Regions from separate parts of the Homo sapiens genome. Here regions 1 and 3 are each linked to region 2. Evidence: fine-mapped expression QTL. A gene starts in region 2. Each other region holds a variant in brackets. All regions are shown on one strand. Distances are between the middles of the regions.

Evidence for each region. PIP is the estimated chance that this variant, and not a neighbour inherited with it, causes the effect.
Region 1: its variant is the best candidate, but not a certain one, in a credible set for the expression of RSAD1 in whole blood (INTERVAL, PIP 0.56).
Region 3: its variant is the best candidate, but not a certain one, in a credible set for the expression of RSAD1 in whole blood (TOPMed, PIP 0.58).

The regions. Positions count from the first base shown.
Region 1 is chr17:50,507,217-50,513,625 of GRCh38, forward strand. It overlaps MYCBPAP (MYCBP associated protein), which reads left to right and starts at 1,223. Exons shown (of 19, transcript NM_032133.6): 1 at 1,223-1,534. The coding sequence starts at 1,459. RefSeq lists silencers at 929-1,218, 4,190-4,279 and enhancers at 1,239-1,298, 1,319-1,448, 3,890-4,089. The variant G/GA (reference allele first, on the strand shown) is at 3,844.
Region 2 is chr17:50,476,298-50,482,668 of GRCh38, forward strand. It overlaps RSAD1 (radical S-adenosyl methionine domain containing 1), which reads left to right and starts at 2,563. Exons shown (of 9, transcript NM_018346.3): 1 at 2,563-2,722; 2 at 3,332-3,465; 3 at 3,583-3,787; 4 at 5,794-6,159; 5 at 6,346-6,371. The coding sequence starts at 2,588. RefSeq lists silencers at 2,329-2,818, 3,390-3,776 and an enhancer at 6,211-6,371.
Region 3 is chr17:50,498,835-50,503,834 of GRCh38, forward strand. No RefSeq gene overlaps it. Among named protein-coding and RNA genes, the nearest start is that of MYCBPAP, 7.1 kb to the right of the region's middle. The variant C/T (reference allele first, on the strand shown) is at 2,531.

The sequences.
Region 1 (6,409 bases), 31 kb after region 2:
CTGTAATCCTAGCACTTTGGGAGGCCGAGGCGGGCAGATCACGAGGTCAGGAGTTCGAGACCAGCCTGACCAACTGGTGAAACCCCATCTCTACTAAAAATACAAAACTTAGCCAGGCATGGTGGCACTCGTCTGTAATCCCAGCTACTCAGGAGGCTGAGGCAGGAGAATCGCTTGAACCTGGGAGGCAGAGGTTGCAGTGAGCCGAGATGGCACCACTACACTCCAGCTTGGGCACAGAGCAAGACTCCGTCTCAAAAAAAAAAAAAAAAAAATTTTTTTTTTTTTTTAGAATGGAGTCTCCCTACGTTGCTCAGGTCAATTTTGAACTCCTGGCCTCAACCAATCCTCCTGCCTCAGCCTTCTAAAGCACTAGGATTGTAGGCCTGAACCACTGTGCCCAGCAGAGAAAACCGGCTCTCTAGGTCAAGGCATTGGCTCAAGAACACACAGCTAACAAGCCGACATAGCTGGGATTAGAACCCAATTGTCTGGCTCTAGAACCCCTTCACTATTTGAGGTACAATTTACTGCCTGACTACTAGTGCTAAACTTTGGGTTGGGGGCAGGGCCTGAGGCAGCTCCTGCTCTCATACATTCTGAGAGCCAGTTTGACAATAGGCAACTACACAAAAAACCGAAATAATCCCAGAATGCCTCAGGGCTCCAGGGGAAGGCGAAAAAAGCGGGTGCGTTTATAAACTTAAAATAATCAGAGGCAGCATCTCCAAGGACTGTGAGAATGCCCCAAGTCAGGGCAAAAGTTTTGGCTGGTTTGGGAAGTGATGAAAGGCCAAAGTGGCTGCAGCGAGCGTGGACCCGGGAGGTCTCCAGGCGCGTTGGTGCGAGTTGGGGACGGCAGGCAGGGACACCTAAAACCTACGGTACGCCACGAAGGGGTTTCAGCACGTCCTGAAAGGCCCGATCCCCCCCCAGAACCGCTGTGAGGGGGGCAGAGGGAGGTCCCTCGACAGGATGTGGCCTTAGTCGAGGAAGGCGGGAAGCAGGGGCTGGCACCCCCGACGCCCCACCCGCCCCCCGTGGCCTAGCAGCAGGGCGGGGCGAGGCGGGTCATGCACCCCTACCAGCCAGCCACTCCCACCCAGCCCTCGGCTCCCGCAACTCGCGGGGGTCCTCGCCCGGGTCCCCCGCCCCGCCCCGCCCGGCTGGTGACGTCACGGCGCTCGTCGGCGCCGCCTGTGGCGTCACAGGCCGGGCCCGCAGGGCTTTCTAGGGGTCCGTCGCTCTTGAAGCCGCCGGCGGCGGGCGCGTGCGCGGCCCGATGAAGAAGGAGGTTTCCAAGCCGTCTCCGCCCAAGTTGATCGGTGGATGCGCGCCCCCGCGCGGGGCACCGGTTGCTGTGGACGCAGTGGCGGCCGTTGGCTGGCGGGTGCGGCGCAGCCTCGGTGTCTCTGGGCCGGCGGTGCAGGGCAACGTTTCATGGTGCCGGGCGGCACCATGAAGTCTCTAAAGAAGGATTCCCGCCTCAGAATAACTCCGACCAGATTATTAGAGGCCTCAGAGAATGTCAAAGGTTGGCGCTGGCTGCCTTGGGCGCTCGGGAGAACCCGAGAGGGGAAGCGGTCCCCGGAAAGAGTTCAGGACACGGGGCCTGGAGGATGGGGATGGCACCAGGGATGGAGGAAAGATCACGGGGAAGTGGGGTACTGGGCATAGGACCCTTAGGGATGGGGGGCAAGGCAGGAAGAGCCTACAGCGCACTGGGCCTTGGGGATGGGGACATAGGAAGTGGGAGACTGACAGAGGGGCCTCAGGGACCACTGGCTGGGGAGATGGCCTTGCGCTACCTCTAACCACATCTTAGGGTGGCATGCAGGAGGCAGGATCCCCGGACTGGATGAAGTGCAGAAGAGCCAGGAAAGAGTTTAAGGGTAGAAGGGCCAGGAATTGGGGTCCTTGGGAAGAGGAAAGAATGAAGTGTTGAAACCAGCCACCTTGATGGGATTATTTGGTAGAGGAGGGTCGGGGAGCGGGGCAGGCGTCACTTAGGATTCCTGCTGGAAAAACCCAGAAGAAAGGCCTTGCTTGGCTAGTTCTCTTTTTGACTGCCTTTTCCTACCACGTGCACTTTCCAGCTGGATGACACTTATCCAGCTCCTTTAGCCTGGAAAGAATCGCTAGATATGACTGCTTCCTACCCTCTACAGCTTTCTTCTGGTTGCACCTGGGAGAGCCACAGGGCGTCTGATAGCGGACTGACTTCCATGGACATGTTCTCACTTGCAACCCACCCCCTTTTGATCTTTTTTGGCTGTTTCCATTTATTTATTTTTAAATTTAATTTTTAGCTTTTTTTTTCTGTGTGTGTGTGTGTGTGTGTGTGTGTGTGTGTGTGTGTTTGTAAACAGGGCTCTCGCTGTGTTGCCCCAGCTAGTGTCAAATTCTTGGCCTCAAGCGATCCTCCTGCCTCGGCCTCACAGACTGCTAGGATTCCAGGCATGGACCACTGCGCCCAGCCTATTTTTGTTTACTGAGAGCTGATTTTGTGTGGTACTGTGGCTCACCAGAAGGGTATCGGTATTAACTGTGTGACCCTGGTCCTCAAGAAACTCAGTCTAATGAACACCTGGAGGAGTAACCTGACAAAGGTAGAAATACAAATGCTGTGATGTAGGTGCCCATCGGGCTTAAGGGGGCTCAGAGCACCTGAGCCAGACCAGGGATGGTTGTAGGGGTACGTCTTCTGAAGAAGGTGACATCTATGGCAGACAAGAAAAAAAAGGAGAGGTTTGCTTCTCTAGGTCTAGGAAGCAGCATGAGTTTATGGAACTGTAAATGTGGGAACCAGAAGAGGCTGCACAGGTGGGTAGGTCAGGGGCCAGACCATGAAAGGGCTTTATGTACTAGGTCAGAAAGCCTGGATGTGCTCTTGCAGGCCCTGGGGAGACCCAGCCTCAGAGTTGTGAAAGCTCATTGTGAGGAGAGGGGACCCTCAGAAAACTAACAGGAGCTTAGTCGCTTTTCAGTATGGCTTTATGTTTCTTCACGTATAAAAGTCCAACGTTGAGCCGGGCATGGTGGTGCACATCTGCAGTCTCAGCTGCTCAGGAGGCTGTGGCAGGAGGATTGTTCCAGGCCAGGAGTTTATGATCACACCTGTGAATAGCCACTGCATTCCAGACTGGGCAACACAGTGAGACCCCCATTATTAAAAAAATAAAAGTCCAATGCTGTTTTATGACATACTATATATATATATGTATGTATTTTATATATATTATGTATATGTGTATATATGTGTGTGTGTGTGTGTGTGTGTGTGTATATATATATATATATATATATATATATATATATATGTATTTTGAGACAGGGCCTCGCTCTGTCACCCGGGATGGAGTGCCGTGGTACAGTCATAGGTCACTATAGTCTTGAACTTCTGGGCTCAAGTGAACCTCCTGCCTCAGCCTCCCAAGTTGCTAGTATTACAGGTGCACACCACCATGCCTGGCAAATTTTTTTTTTTTTTTTTTTTGTAGAGACAAGTTGCCCAGGCTGGTCTTAAACTCCTGGGCTCAAGCGATCCTCCCACCTTGGCCTCCCAAAGTGCTGGGATTACAGGCATGAGCCACCGTGCCTGGCCCGTGACATACTTTTTAATAGTTGAGAGAGAGGGAATATCTGGTCTCCTTTCACAAGGGCAGTCAAGGGCTTTCCTAGCCACTGCCTCCTGCTCACATAGTTTCTGGGAGATCGTATCAGATTTGAACTGCTGTAAACAAATCAAGGAAAGATTTTTCACTGCATATTTATTTTTAATAAGCAGAAAATTTAGTTTGTTAATTAACCCTTGAGTTAAGAACATGCACCAGAGTGAGGAGG[G/GA]AAAAAAAATGAAGTGTTTAGCATGCAAGATATCTTTTTAAAAATATCTCAGGGGAGCCTCTAATGTTGTAGAGCAGTACTCTCCCCCAGCCCCCATACAAGGCAGCTAATGACCCAGTGTCATTTTGTAACCTTGTGCGATGTTTCTCCAAAGTCTCTGACTCATAAGCAAAAAGGAAAGCAAAAATAGTGACTTAAACCTGTTTCTCGGGACCTGAGAGCCCTTTTGAGTCCTAGTACCCTCCCTTCCTGCTATGCACCACCTCCCCACCGCTGTCTTGTTGCTAAGAAACCAAGAACCCTCCTAGCAATATTAGATTCCCCTCCCCAACCAATTAAAGCTCTGCCCTAGTAGGGACAGCCCCTCCATGGTTCCCCCAGCCCAACCCTAAGGTCAGAATTTCCCAAAGACTTTAATCAACACTAAAAACGAATAATACTTAGATAAAACAAGAAGCAGAAGAAATAGAGTCCGGGTTTCTTCTCCCTCCATAGTTTCCCCGCTCCGTATCTCGCTTCCTACCCCCACCTGAGCACCTTGCTTCCAGCCCTCTGGTCCAGCTCCGACAAGAGACTGACTACCCCGTGCAAGCGGGGTGGTCTCTTTTACCCCTCACTGTCAGCATCAAGGGAGAAATGTCAGCTGGGTGGCTCACTAGGAGCCCTATCAGCTTGGGATTCCAGACCAAAGAACCAGAAAGAGCTGGGCCTGTATAGGCTCAGTAGTCAGACATACCTCAGCCCTGTGGAGTCTTCCTGCAGGTCCTAAAATGATCCCTGGGGCTCTTCCTTCCCTGGTCTCCCCAGCTTGCCTCTGCCTCTCCGGTCCATCTGGCTCTCTTCATCTGATGAATCATTCTGAAATGCACCTGTCATCAACTCACTCCCCTGAACCAAAGATCAGATGCCTGAGCCATGCTTTACAAAGCTGTCATGCCCTGGTTTCCCTCTCATCCCCAACATCACCACCTCTCCACCTCCCCAGCAAGTTTTCTTTTTTTTTTTTTTTTGAGACGGAGTCTTGCTCTGTCGCCCAGGCTCTGGAGTGCAGTGGTGCAAACTCGGCTCACTGCAAGCTCTGCCTCCCGTGTTCACGCCATTCTCCTGCCTCAGCCTCCCGAGTAGCTGGGACTACAGGTGCCCGCCACCACGCCTGGCTAATATTTTTGTATTTTTAGTAGAGACGGGGTTTCACTGTGTTAGCCAGGATGGTCTCGATCTCCTGACTTCGTGATCCACCTGCCTCGGCCTCCCAAAGTGCTGGGATTACAGGCGTGAGCCACCGCGCCCGGCCCCCCAGCAAGTTTTCTGTGTTATCGTGCCACTCACGTGCCATGCTCAGCCCTGCCCCTTGCTTTGCTTGGACTTTGACTTCACCTGGAGCATCTTGGTTTGCCGCTGTACCTGTGCAAAGCTTGCCTCTCCTTTGCAGCCTGCCTCAGCCTGTGGAGCCACCTCTGCAGCTGTTCCTCTGAACACTTCTTCAGAGCCCTGAACTGTGTAATCCACATGGATCTGTTCCTTTTTTGATGTCTAACCAAACCTATTGCCTGTACCGCAAATGTAGGAACTCCTCTAGCTATGATTGGTGTGTGTTCCTGTCACATTTTTCAGTACCTCAAGAGAAGGAGCCATATCTTAACCTTTTATACCATCTTTGTAGTTTATAGCACATAGAAGGGGCTTGGTAAGCACTCTCGAGGAGCAATTTAACTTTAAGATACATATATATCCCTGGGCGCACTGGCTCATGCCTCTAATCCCAGCACTTTGGGAGGCCGAGGTGGGCAGATCACCTGAGGTCAGGAGTTTGAGACCAGCCTGGCCAACATGGTGAAACCCTGTCTCTACAAAACATACAAAAAATAGTTGGGCGGCCGGGTGCGGTGGCTCATGCCTGTAATCCCAGGACTTTGGGAGGCTGAGGCAGGTGGATCATATGAGGCCAGGAGTTCAAGACCAGCCTAGCCAACATGGTGAAACCCAGCCTCTACTAAAAATACAAAAAGTTAGCCAGGCATGTTGGTGCATGCCTGTAATCCCAACTACTTGGGAGGCTGAGGCAGGAGAATCGCTTGAACCTGGGAGGCAGAGATTGCAGTGAGCCGAGATCACGCCATTATACTCTAGCCTGGGCAACAAGAGTGAAACTCCATCTCAAAAAAAAAAAAAAAAAAAAAAGCTGGGCATGGTGGCGCATGCCTGTATTCCCAGCTACTCGGGAGGCCGAGGCAGGAGAATCACTTGAGCCCGGGAGGCGGAGGTTGCAGTGAGCTGAGATCACACCACTGCACTCCAGCCTGGGGGACAGAGTGAGACTCCATCTCAAGAAAAAAAAAAAGATGTATATATCATTTTAATGAATATTTTAATAACTAGAACATACCACTCCCTGACTGTATGCAGTAACAGAGCATTTATTGGACTACATTAAAGATAACTTTCTCAGAATAACCTTAGACCAGAGTTTTACTATTTCAATCTAAAGCAAACATGAAAGATTAGCTTCTCTATCACTGAAGGGATGGGAGCTTTGGCCCCCAAAAATCTTCGGCAGTGTTGAAAG
Region 2 (6,371 bases):
CGCGCCTGCCCCCTTACCTCCCAGCGCGCCTGCCCCCTTACCTCGCAGCGCGCCTGCCCCCTTACCTCGCAGCGTGCCTGCCCCCTTACCTCCCAGCGTGCCTGCCCAAGGCAGCAGCAGCCTCCTCTTGACTTTTTAAGAAATGAACATAGGTTTAAGGTATTTTCAGTACCAGGCTCTGTGCTAGGTACTTTCACATTATTTTCTCTCCAAATCTTCCCAACAATCCTTTCAAGTAGCCATTGGTCCCACTTCACCAATGACCCAACAGAAACTCAGGGAGGTTCCGTATCTTGCTCAAGGTCACACAGCTGGATCAGAACCCAGCTGTCTGTTAGGCAGGTTCACTGCACACTAGTTACCAACTTGTCAGAGTCCAGTGAGGCAAACACCCACAAGTTACATAACGCTGAGTCCAGCGAGGCAAACACAAGTGACATGCAACGTGTTTATTACCTATAGGTAGGCACTAAGGGACAACAGAAGGCTGGGATTCATTTGGAGCTGGACCCCTACGGCTCAGGAAAGCTGCTGAGGCAGCTGGGGGATGGACCGTTGTCTGTGCATGCCTGACTTTTTTTTTTGTTGTTGGTTTGTTGTGAGATGGAGTCTCGCTCTTTCACCCGGGCTGGAGTGCAGTGGTGTGAACCCTGGGATTCAAGCAATTTTCCTGCCTCAGCCTCCCTGGTAGCTGGGATTACAGGCGTGCACTACCACGTCCAGCTATTTTTTTTTTTTTTAGTAGAAACAGTTTCGCCATGTTGGCCAGGCTGGTCTTGAACTTCTGACCTCAGGTGATCCACCCGCCTCGGCCTCCCAAAGTGTTGTGATAACAGGCATGGGCCACCACGCCCAGCCAGCCAGACTTGTACTGAAGCTGAGGGACCCCAGAAACCAGCCCGCCCTGTTTTTCGTTTGTTTGTTTGTTTGTTTGATACAGAGTCTCACTCTGTCTCCCAGGCTGGAGTGCAGTGTCGCCATCTGGGCTCACTGCAACTTCCGCCTCCCAGGTTCAAGCAATTCTCCTGCCTCAGCCTCCCGGGTAGCTGGGACTACTGGCACGCACCACCACACCTGGCTAGTTTTTTGTATTTTTAGTAAAAACGGGGTTTCACCGTGTTAGCCAGGATGGTCTCAATCTCCTGACCTTATGATCCGCCCGCATCGGCCTCCCAAAGTGCTGGGATTACAGGAGTAAGCCACCGCGCCCGGCTTCTGCCCTGGGCTTTATACCCTGGGGCCATGTGACATGTTGGGCTGAAGTGTTGAAGGACATGCTTTTTCTAGGGGGACTGGAACAGAGCATGGCTGTGCTGGCCAGTCCTTCCTTCCCTCAGGATGTTGCATTCTCTGCACACTCTACAGTTTTATTTATTTATTTATTGAGACAGTCTTGCTCCATCACCCAGGCTGGAGTGCAGTGGCACTGTCTCAGCTCACTGCAACCTCCGCCTCCCAGGTTCGAGGGATTCTCCCTGCTCAGCCTCCCGTGTAGCTGGGATTACAGGTGCCCACCACCACGCTTGGATAATTTTTGTATTTTTGGTAAAGACGGGGTTTCAGCATGTTGGCTAGGCTGGTCTTGAACTTCTGATCTCAAGTGATCTGCCCGCCTCGGCCTCCCAAAGTGCTGGGATTACAGGCGTCTACAGTTATTCTTGAGAACTACAAGCAAGAAAGGAGGGGAGAACCAGGTCAGTTCAAGGCCACTGGGAGAACTGTCCTGCACCGCCTGCCTCTGAAGCCCATGATGTTTCTGCTTTGTGGGACAGTTGTTCAGGTGCCTGCTTCCCCAGGCCTTCCCCTGCGCCTTCCCCCTCTCTCCTACACACACCATCTGACTGTCCTTCCAGCACGTACACCTCCAGATGCTTGGGTTGGCCTGACCCAAAACAGTCTACTCTCCCGGCCAAGCCAATTGCCCCTGGGATTTTCTGCTCCTCCAAGATCCCGTGCATAGCCCTGGTGGTGGCTCATGCCCTTAATCCTTAGTTACTCTAGATGCTGAGGCAGGAGGATCGCTTGAGGCCGAGGAGTTCAAGACCTCCCCTCTCCCAAATATTTGTAAATGAAATTAAAAGAAAGATCCAGCCCAAGTGTCTCTTCTGCCCTACTGACTCCCACACTCTTAAAACAGATGACCTCACAGCACTGAGGCGGACGGCTCTGGTGTCCAGCAGGCACGGAATTAATACGCCTTGCCTGTCCTGGCCGGTTGGCTTGCCTCTCTCCTGCCAGAATGCAACCTGGCTTTATGCACCTAGATGTCCCCAGCGCCCAGTTCTGAGCCAGGCACATCAAATGTCAAGGAATTGACTGAACAAACTAAGAGCTCCTGGATGGGTCCGGGAACTCGCCCGGGCACAAGGTGCCAAAAGGCAAGCAGCCCGCCTCGCGGCCTGGGGAAAGAACCGACAGGAGGCCGCAGTGAGCGCCCGGGCGCCCGGCAGGTGGCGCCGCAGCCCCGGGCCCGGGCCCTCTTGTCGCGCGGTCACGCAGCCCCTCTTCCTTCCGCCGGCTGCGCACTCACAGTGATCCCTGCGCGCGTCTCCTGCTCGGGTCAGTGCGCCGCGCTGCGCTGGGCGCCATGGCGCTCCCCGGAGCCCGGGCTCGCGGCTGGGCGGCAGCAGCCAGAGCGGCCCAGAGGCGCCGCCGCGTGGAGAACGCAGGAGGGTCCCCGAGTCCTGAGCCTGCGGGCCGGCGCGCGGCGCTTTACGTACACGTGAGTAGGGGCGGGGGCGGAGCCCACGGTGTGTGGCCGCAGCCCTGGCCGTGACCGTGGCCGTCCAAAACCCAGGTGGCGGTTTGTCACTCTATGAACCCGCCTGCCGTGTTTCCGTGCCCCCGTACGAGGTCTGGGATGGGACCCTGTGCTTTGGCAGGGAAATGACTTGGTCCAGAAACCTGAAGTCTCTGCTACTCACCGGCTCGGTGACTCTGACCAAATGGTTCAAATTTCATAACAATTTTCCTCTTAGCAAGACAAAATTTTCTTAAGAGCAGTGTTCTGACTCGGTAGCTGGGAAAATGGCTCATAGGAAAATTGTATGAAAATTATATGATCCCAGAAAGAGCTTGGGTTGAATTCCTTCCTGACGTCTGCTGGTTGGAAGAGGCAGCGTAACAAAGGAGTGAGCCTCAGTTTTCTCACATTGAAGTGGATGTAATAACCCCAGTGCGACCTGCCTTGGGGAGTTGTGTGGCTTAGATGTCCTAGCTACTGTGGAAAGACCTCGGGATAGGGGTGGGGGTGGGGTTGGGGGTGTGTGCGACTGAACCCTGGAAGTGGCCAGGGCAGCTCTCACCGCGCACGTGCACTCACTGCCCCCAGTGGCCTTACTGCGAGAAGCGCTGCAGTTACTGCAACTTCAACAAGTACATCCCTCGCCGCCTGGAGGAGGCTGCCATGCAGAAGTGTCTGGTGACCGAAGCTCAGACGCTGCTGCGGCTCAGCGGGGTGCAACGGTGGGTAGTGGGGGCTGTAGGCAGCGTTTTGGGAAATATTTGGAGGAGTGGTGGGGGATAGGTGCAGGCATCCCAGAGGGCTCCCCCAGGTCTCATTTCTCCATTCTCTTTCCCCAGGGTGGAGTCTGTGTTCTTTGGTGGGGGGACCCCCAGTCTAGCCAGTCCCCACACGGTGGCTGCTGTCCTGGAGGCTGTGGCACAGGCAGCCCACCTGCCTGCAGACTTGGAAGTCACATTGGAGGCTAATCCTACTTCAGCTCCGGGCTCCAGACTGGCAGAGTTCGGGGCAGCAGGGGTTAACAGGTTGTCTATAGGCCTCCAGGTAACCCATGGCACTCACCCCATCCCAGTGCACCCCGCCCTTCAGTGCCATCTCCTCTTTGGTCACATTCATTCATTGGGCAAACATTGATTGAGCACCTTCTGGGTGCCAGGGACACAGTAGGGCCTAGTGCGACACTTTTATAACTCCTTAATTGTCTGCTGCTGTCATAGACCACAGACTTTATGAGAAAGGGATCAGGTGTGGCTTTTCTATTTCAAACACTTACCATAGTGCCTGGCACATAGTAGGTGGTCAAAAAAGATTTGCTACATGACACGGGAGACGCAGACATGTAGCCAGATTATTGCAGCATGGTAAATGTCACCTGTAAAGGGGGTCTCTATAAAAGGCTTCTAGAGTACAGCCTGAAGGGAGGTCACTCTGATGAAATCACTGAAACTTCTCTGGAGGAGATGTTTGAATGAAGAGGAAGAGTTCACCAGGTGAGGGGGTGTGGGGGAAACGACACAGGCCATGGAAGAGCCTGGCATGTTTTGGGGGAGTTGTGAGTCATTCCTTGTGATTGGAGAGGCTGGAAACAAGGTTGCAAGGTAGAGTCCAAAACCTTTGGTGCCTACTAAGGAGTGTGGGTTTTGTCCTAGTAATGATAGGGAGCCATTGAAGGTTTTTAAGTAGGGAGAAACCTAGTCGTCTCAGGTTGACCTCCGATATTTCCGTAGGACTTCCGGGTTGTGGGCTTTGTTCTGATGGAATATGCTGACAGAAACACATCACTTCTAAGATATTCTTACCCCAAAGCGCATATCTTGAATCTAATTGTCAGGAAACCCTGAATTAAGAGATTTTTACAAAATTATTGTGGTAAGAACAGACAGCATGAGATCTACCGTCTTAACAAGTTTTTAAATGTACATACAGCACTGTTAACTATAAGCACAGTGTTATACAGCCAATCTGTAGAAATTATTCATTTTAAATAATTCATTTAAATAATTATAATTCGTAAATAATAATAATTTATTTAAATTCATTAAATTATTCATTTTAAACAACTGGCCTGTATTCTTCAAAAATGCCAGTGTCATGAGAGACAAAGAAAGGCTGAGAATCTAAAGGAGACAGAAGAGACAGCTGAATACAATGTGTGGCCCCTGACTGGGGAGGAAGGAGGAAATTACTACAGTAGATGTTATTGGGACCATTAGCCAAATTTGAATATGACAATGTATTATGTAATGGTGTTGTGTCAGTGTTGCATTTCCTGAACTCTGTAATTGGATTGCAGTTATGTAAGAGAATGTCCTTGTTCTTTAGGAAATACACACCTAAGTATTTAGAGGTTAGGGAGTATAATATCTATAACTGCTATTCAATATAGTGGCCACTAGCCACAGACTAGTGAGCATTTGAAATGTGGTAAGTTAAGTTTAATTCACTTAAATTTAAATAACCACATGTGGCTACTACCTATCATATTGGACAGTACAGATATGAACATTTCCACCATTGTAGAAAGTTCTTTTGGACAGTGCTGGTTTATAATTTACTGTTAAATGATTCAGCATAATAACAGGTATGTATGTTTAAAGAGAAACAAATATGGACAAATGGTGAATCAAGATGAAGGTTTTTTTTGTGATTTTCTTTCAACTTTTCTATAGGTTAGAATTATTTAAAATTGAAAAGTAAAGTAAATAAAGACTTGATTTTGGAGTCAGACAGTCCTAAATTCCAGGTCGAACTTTGCAACTGTATGGCCTGGACAAGTTACTTAACACCTCTGAACCTCAGTTTTCTCATCTGTAAAATAGAACTAATATTGGAGGGTTACAAAGATTAAATTAGACACTACATAAAGGTGCTTGGCACATAGCGACCCTTCTGTGAATGGCAGCTCTTGGTGCCAGCTTGACCTTCCCCCTCCTGCCTTCCAGCTGCCTGCCACGTGCTGCGTTCTCCCTGTATCTGTGTCTACAATGGGGAGGAGGGTTCTTGTCTCTCTCTGAGCTGCTGGTATGCTTACACCCACCCTCTTTTCCCAGTCCCTAGATGACACTGAGCTCCGGCTGTTGGGACGGACGCACTCGGCCTGCGATGCTCTGCGGACGCTGGCAGAGGCCCGGCGCCTCTTTCCCGGGCGCGTGTCTGTAGACTTGATGCTGGGGCTGCCGGCACAGCAGGTGGGGCCGTGGCTTGGGCAGCTGCAGGAACTGCTGCACCACTGTGATGACCACCTCTCCCTCTACCAGCTGTCCCTGGAGCGGGGCACCGCACTCTTCGCCCAGGTGCAGCGGGGTGCCCTTCCAGCCCCTGACCCGGAGCTCGCAGCTGAGATGTACCAGAGGGGCCGGGCTGTCCTTCGGGAGGCTGGCTTCCACCAGTATGAGGTCTCCAACTTTGCCCGGAATGTAAGTTCTGGGGCTGATGGCTGGAGGTGGAGGATGGGCAGACTGCAGTGTGACCAGGGCGTTGTGACCTTCTGAAGAGAAGGATCCTGGCCGAGATGGTGGGACATTCTAACCTGGGGCCCCTTACCTGAGTCTAAAAATGAGGCCTGCCCTCTTCACTCTGCACTATTTCCTCCCTCCCCGCAGGGGGCGCTCAGTACCCACAATTGGAC
Region 3 (5,000 bases), 22 kb after region 2:
GTACATCAAAGGGCACTATTAAGAAAGTAAAAAGAAAACCCACAGAATGGGGGAAAATATTTACAAATTATGTATCTGATAAGAGTTTAATATCCTCAATTTATAAAGAACTCCTACAGCTCAACAATGAAAAGACAACCCAATTTAAAAATGGGCAAAAGATCAGACGCAGTGGCTCACACCTGTAATCCTAACACTTTGGAAGGCCGAGGTGGGCAGATCACTTGAGGCCAGGAGTTCGAGACCAGCCTGGCCAACATGGTGAAACCCTGTCTCTACTACAAAGACAAAAATGGGCCAGGTGTGGTGGTGCACACCTGTAATCCCAGCTACTCGAGAGGCTAAGGCACAAGAATTGCTTGAACCTGGGAGGTGGAGGTTGCAGTGAGCCAAGATTACACCACTGCACTCCAGCCTGGGCAACAGAGTGAGACTTTCTCTCAAAAAATAAATAAAATAAAAATAGGCAAAGGATTTGAAAAGATGTTTCTCTAAATAAAATACACAAGTGGCTAATAAGCACATGAAAAGATGCTCAACATCATTAGCCATTAAGAAAATGGACAACAAAACTATGATATGACCCCCCCAACCCCCACTAGGATGGTTATAATAGAAATAATAATAATAACAAGTGTTGGTGAATATGTGGAGAAATCAGACTGCTGGTGGGGATGCAAAATGGTGCAGCTTCTGTGGAAAACAGTCTTGCAGTTCCTAAAAAAGTTAAACTTAGTGTCACCATATGATCCAGCAACTCCACTCCTAGGTATATGCCCAAGAGAATTAAAGACATGTAATCATACAAAAACTTATGCACAAATGTTCATAGCAGCAGTATTCATAATAGCCACAAAGTGGAAACAGCCCAATGCCCATCAATTGATGAATGGATAAATAAAATATGGCATCTTCATACAATGAAATATTATTCAGCAGTGAAATGAATACATGAAAACATTATGCTAAGTGAAAAAAAAAGACACAAAGTAGGTCTATACTGTATGATTTAATGTATATGAAATGTCCAGAATAGGCAAATTCATAGAGACGGAAAGTAGATTAGTGGTTTCCAGGGATTAGCGGGTAGGGAAGAATGGGGAGTGACTAATGGGTACAGGGTTTCTTTTGGGATGATGGAAATGTTCTGGAATTGAACAGTGGTAATGGTTGTACAACCTTGTGAATATACTAAGAAGAAAAAACACTGAATTTTATCCTTAAAATGGTGAATTTTATGTTATATAAAATTTTTTATGTAAATTATCTCAATTTTATTCAAAAAGGAATTATTACACATAAAATGCTTAGAAGGCTATGCAGGCCATGATAAGCCTTCAGTTAGTTGCCATTTAGTTTATAAACTCCACTGAATTTATGGGTTGGTCCAGATTTCCGAAGGAAAACATAAAAGGAACATCACCTTTAGAAATCGAATTCATGGCCTGGCGCGGTGGCTCATGCCTGTAGTCCCAGCACTTTGGGAAGCTGAGGCAGGCAGATCATGAGGTCAAGAGATTGAGACCATCCAGGTTAACACAGTAAAACCCCGTCTCTACTAAACATACAAAAAATTAGCCGGGCATGGTGGCACGCGCCTGTAGTCCCAGCTACTCGGGAGGCTGAGGTAGGAGAATCGCTTGAACCCAGGAAGCGGAGGTTGCAGTGAGCCGAGATCGCCCCATTGCACTCCAGCCTGGGTGACAGAACGAGACTCCATCTCAAAAAAAAAAAAAAAAAAAAGATTGAATTTGCATACTTAATACATGTTAAAGCATTTATTTGCATGTAGTTTCTTCTCTCATTTCATACTCCATCTTGATTTGACATGCTTTATATATATACATATATAATATATATAAGCATTTATTTGCATATTGTTTTTAAATTGTATTTTCATGATCACTTTTATCACTTTTGATATTTTTGAGGTGTGTCCAAGGCTTAAATCGCATTTGTTTTTGAAGTCTCAACTGGATTGAGTCTAGGACTGCCATGTAGCTCAGGGAATCCGCTTATGGTCAGGCCTGTGAAACAGCAGGATGCTCTTTGACTTTGGGCTGAAAGCCTGAGACGGAGGCTTAGCTCCATTGCTTACAAGCTATGTGACCTGGGACAAGACTAAGGTTGTCAGCTTTAGCAAACAAAAATACAGACACCCAGTTACATTTGAATTTCAGATAAACAATGTATATTGTTTAATGATTTTGTTTAATGATATATTGTTTAACGATATATTAATGAAGAACAATGATATTAAACAATGACCAGATAAACAATGAATATATTTTTTGTGTAAACATATCCAAAATATTATATGGGAAATACTTATACTAAAAAATTATTTTATATGAAATTAAAATTTAATTTATCTGTGAGAGTTTTCAAGGGAATCATATTTAATTCTCACAACGCCCCCTGCTGCCCTTTCCCATTTTTGTCATGAAAGAGACTGACTCGGAGAGGTTAAGTGACTTAGCCCAAGGTCATCGAGCTAGAAAATTATTGAGCTGGGATTTGAACTTGGGTG[C/T]GTCAACTGTAGCATGCTCTGCTACTGGAACTCAAGACAGATATGTAGCAACCTACTTTTTTTTTTTTTTTTTTTGAGACAGAGTCTCACTCTGAGGCCAGGCTAGAGTGAGGGCAGTGGCACGATCTCGGCTTACTGCAACTTCTGCCGCCCAGGTTCAAGCGATTCTCCTGCCTCAGCCTCATGAGTAGCTAGGATTACAGGAGCCTGCCACTGCGCCTGGCTAATTTTTGTAGTTTTAGTAGAGACGGGGTTTCACTATTTGGCCAGGCTGGTCTTGAACACCTGACCTCGTGATCCACCCGCCTCAGCCTCCCAAAGTGCTGGGATTACAGGCGTGAGCCACCGCACCTGGCCTGGCAGTGACCTACTTAATGATAGCCTGGGAGCCATGAGCTAACTTGGTAAGAACAGAAGCTTTCATGGACTGAGACGGACTTTTGAATAGGAGTTAGAGAATTCGATTTCAAAGTGTTTCTATGACCCTGTCTGTGTTAGTTTCCTGTTTCTGCCTTAACGAATGACCACATATTTAGTGGCTTAACACAAATTTATCTTGCAGCCTCTGGAGGTCAGAAGTCTGAAATGGTCCAGGTGTCTGCAGAGCTGTGTTCCTTGTGGAGGCTCTAGGAGAGAATCTGCCTCTTGCCTTTTCCAGCTTCTTAAGGCTTGCGGCATGTCTTGGATCGGAGCCACACACTCTGACCTCCGCTTCCATTAGCACATTTCCCTCTCTGACGCTGACCCTTCTGCCGCCCTCTTGTAACGACGCTTGTGATTACATGGGGCCCACCGGATAATCCCGGATCATCTCTGAATCTCAAGATCCTTAATCACATCTGCAAAATCCTTTTTGCCTTGTAAGGTAACATATTTACAGCTTCCGGCGATTAGGAGGTGGACATCTGTGGTGGAGAGGTTATTCTGCCTATCACACTAAGAGAGAAATGATCTAGTTGACTTGAGTGTCCCAGGCCTTAACTATAATCCCTTTCATCTGTATAGCTTTCACACACATTCTTTTTTCCACCTTGCATCCATCCTGGAAAGTAGATGAAGGCTGTGCTGAGCCCATTCTGTGAGGGAGGAAGATGAAACTCAGAGCGGAGGCCTCGTGCTGGGTGACACAGCTAAAAAGAGACTCAGGCCCAGGGCTTTTGATTCAGCATCTGCCCCCTCAGTTCCCAGCCATGCATCACTAGAACACTATTCTCACCGATGGAGAAGGACAATTCCTCAGCTACCCCCACAATTTAGGAAGAAGTCCCCAAGGTGAACCAGCTCCCTCAGCCCTGAATCTGCCCTCAGAAGGTGGCCTTCTGCCCAGAGCGAGGATGGAGGGGTGCAGGCAGAGAACCATTTTTTTGGTGGAGGTCCACGGGACAGAGCCCAGAACTCAATGTCCATCCATCTTGGGCGTGTCCTCCCCAGCAGCCCAGGCTGACTGGACCGGCGCAGGAACTCCTGCATGCTCAGAGGGAGCCCTGATTCTTAGAACTGTCTTCTCATAGCAGTCTTCTTAGGAGTATGTTGCTGTGGTTTGTGATTCTGCCCCTGGGTGCTGCTGCATGGGAGGAGCCAGCTCTCTCCCTGCCCCACAGATCATGGAAGGCAGCGACCATAGGCTCACTGATGCTCCTGCAGGCTCCCTACACCCATCCATTAGGATGGCCCACATGTGCCAGCCAGGAATGGGGGACACAGCCATGAAGCCGACAGATAGGCTCCTGCACCTCTGGAACTTGTGCTTTAGCGGGGCAGACAGATCCCACAGAAGTGTATGTGTAGGAGTTCTGAGGATGACAAAAAGGATGAGGCAATAGAAGGTGACTGTGACCTTGTGAGACAGGCACTGTCCCCAGTCTATCACTCTATTTTTGTTTCTTTGGGTTTTTTTGAAGCAGGGTCTCGTTCTGTCACTCAGGCTGGAGTGCAGTGGTGCAATCATAGCTTACTGCAGCCTTGATCTCCTGGGCTCCAAGCAAGCCCCCTGCTTCAGCCTCCTGAGTAACTAGGACTCCAGACACACACAAACACCACACCCGGCTAATTTTCAAAATGTTTATTTTTAGTACAGACGGGGTCTTACTATGTGGCCCAGGCTGGTGTCAAGCTCCTGGGCTCAAGTGATCCTTCTGCTTTGACCTTCCAAAGTGCTGGGATTGCATGTGTGAGCCACCATGCCTAGTTCACTGTCCCCACTCTAAAGCAGACAGCCCAAGTGGGGGCAAAGTTGAGAAGCAAACACACACTGTACTCCAAAGCCTCTGAAAATCCCTCCTTGTGTCCTTCCTAAGAAGGTCCCAGAGTCTCTGTGTCATCCCTGAAGCTGAAGTCAGTCCATTCTGGGAGCAGAGTCCAGCTGTGTCCTGTGTTTGGGGCTAAGAAGAATGTGAGATTCCTGCTGAGTGTGAGCTGAGCAAGGTTGTAGTAAGGAGGGCAGTGATGTGATGCATTGTTTAAGGGGTGC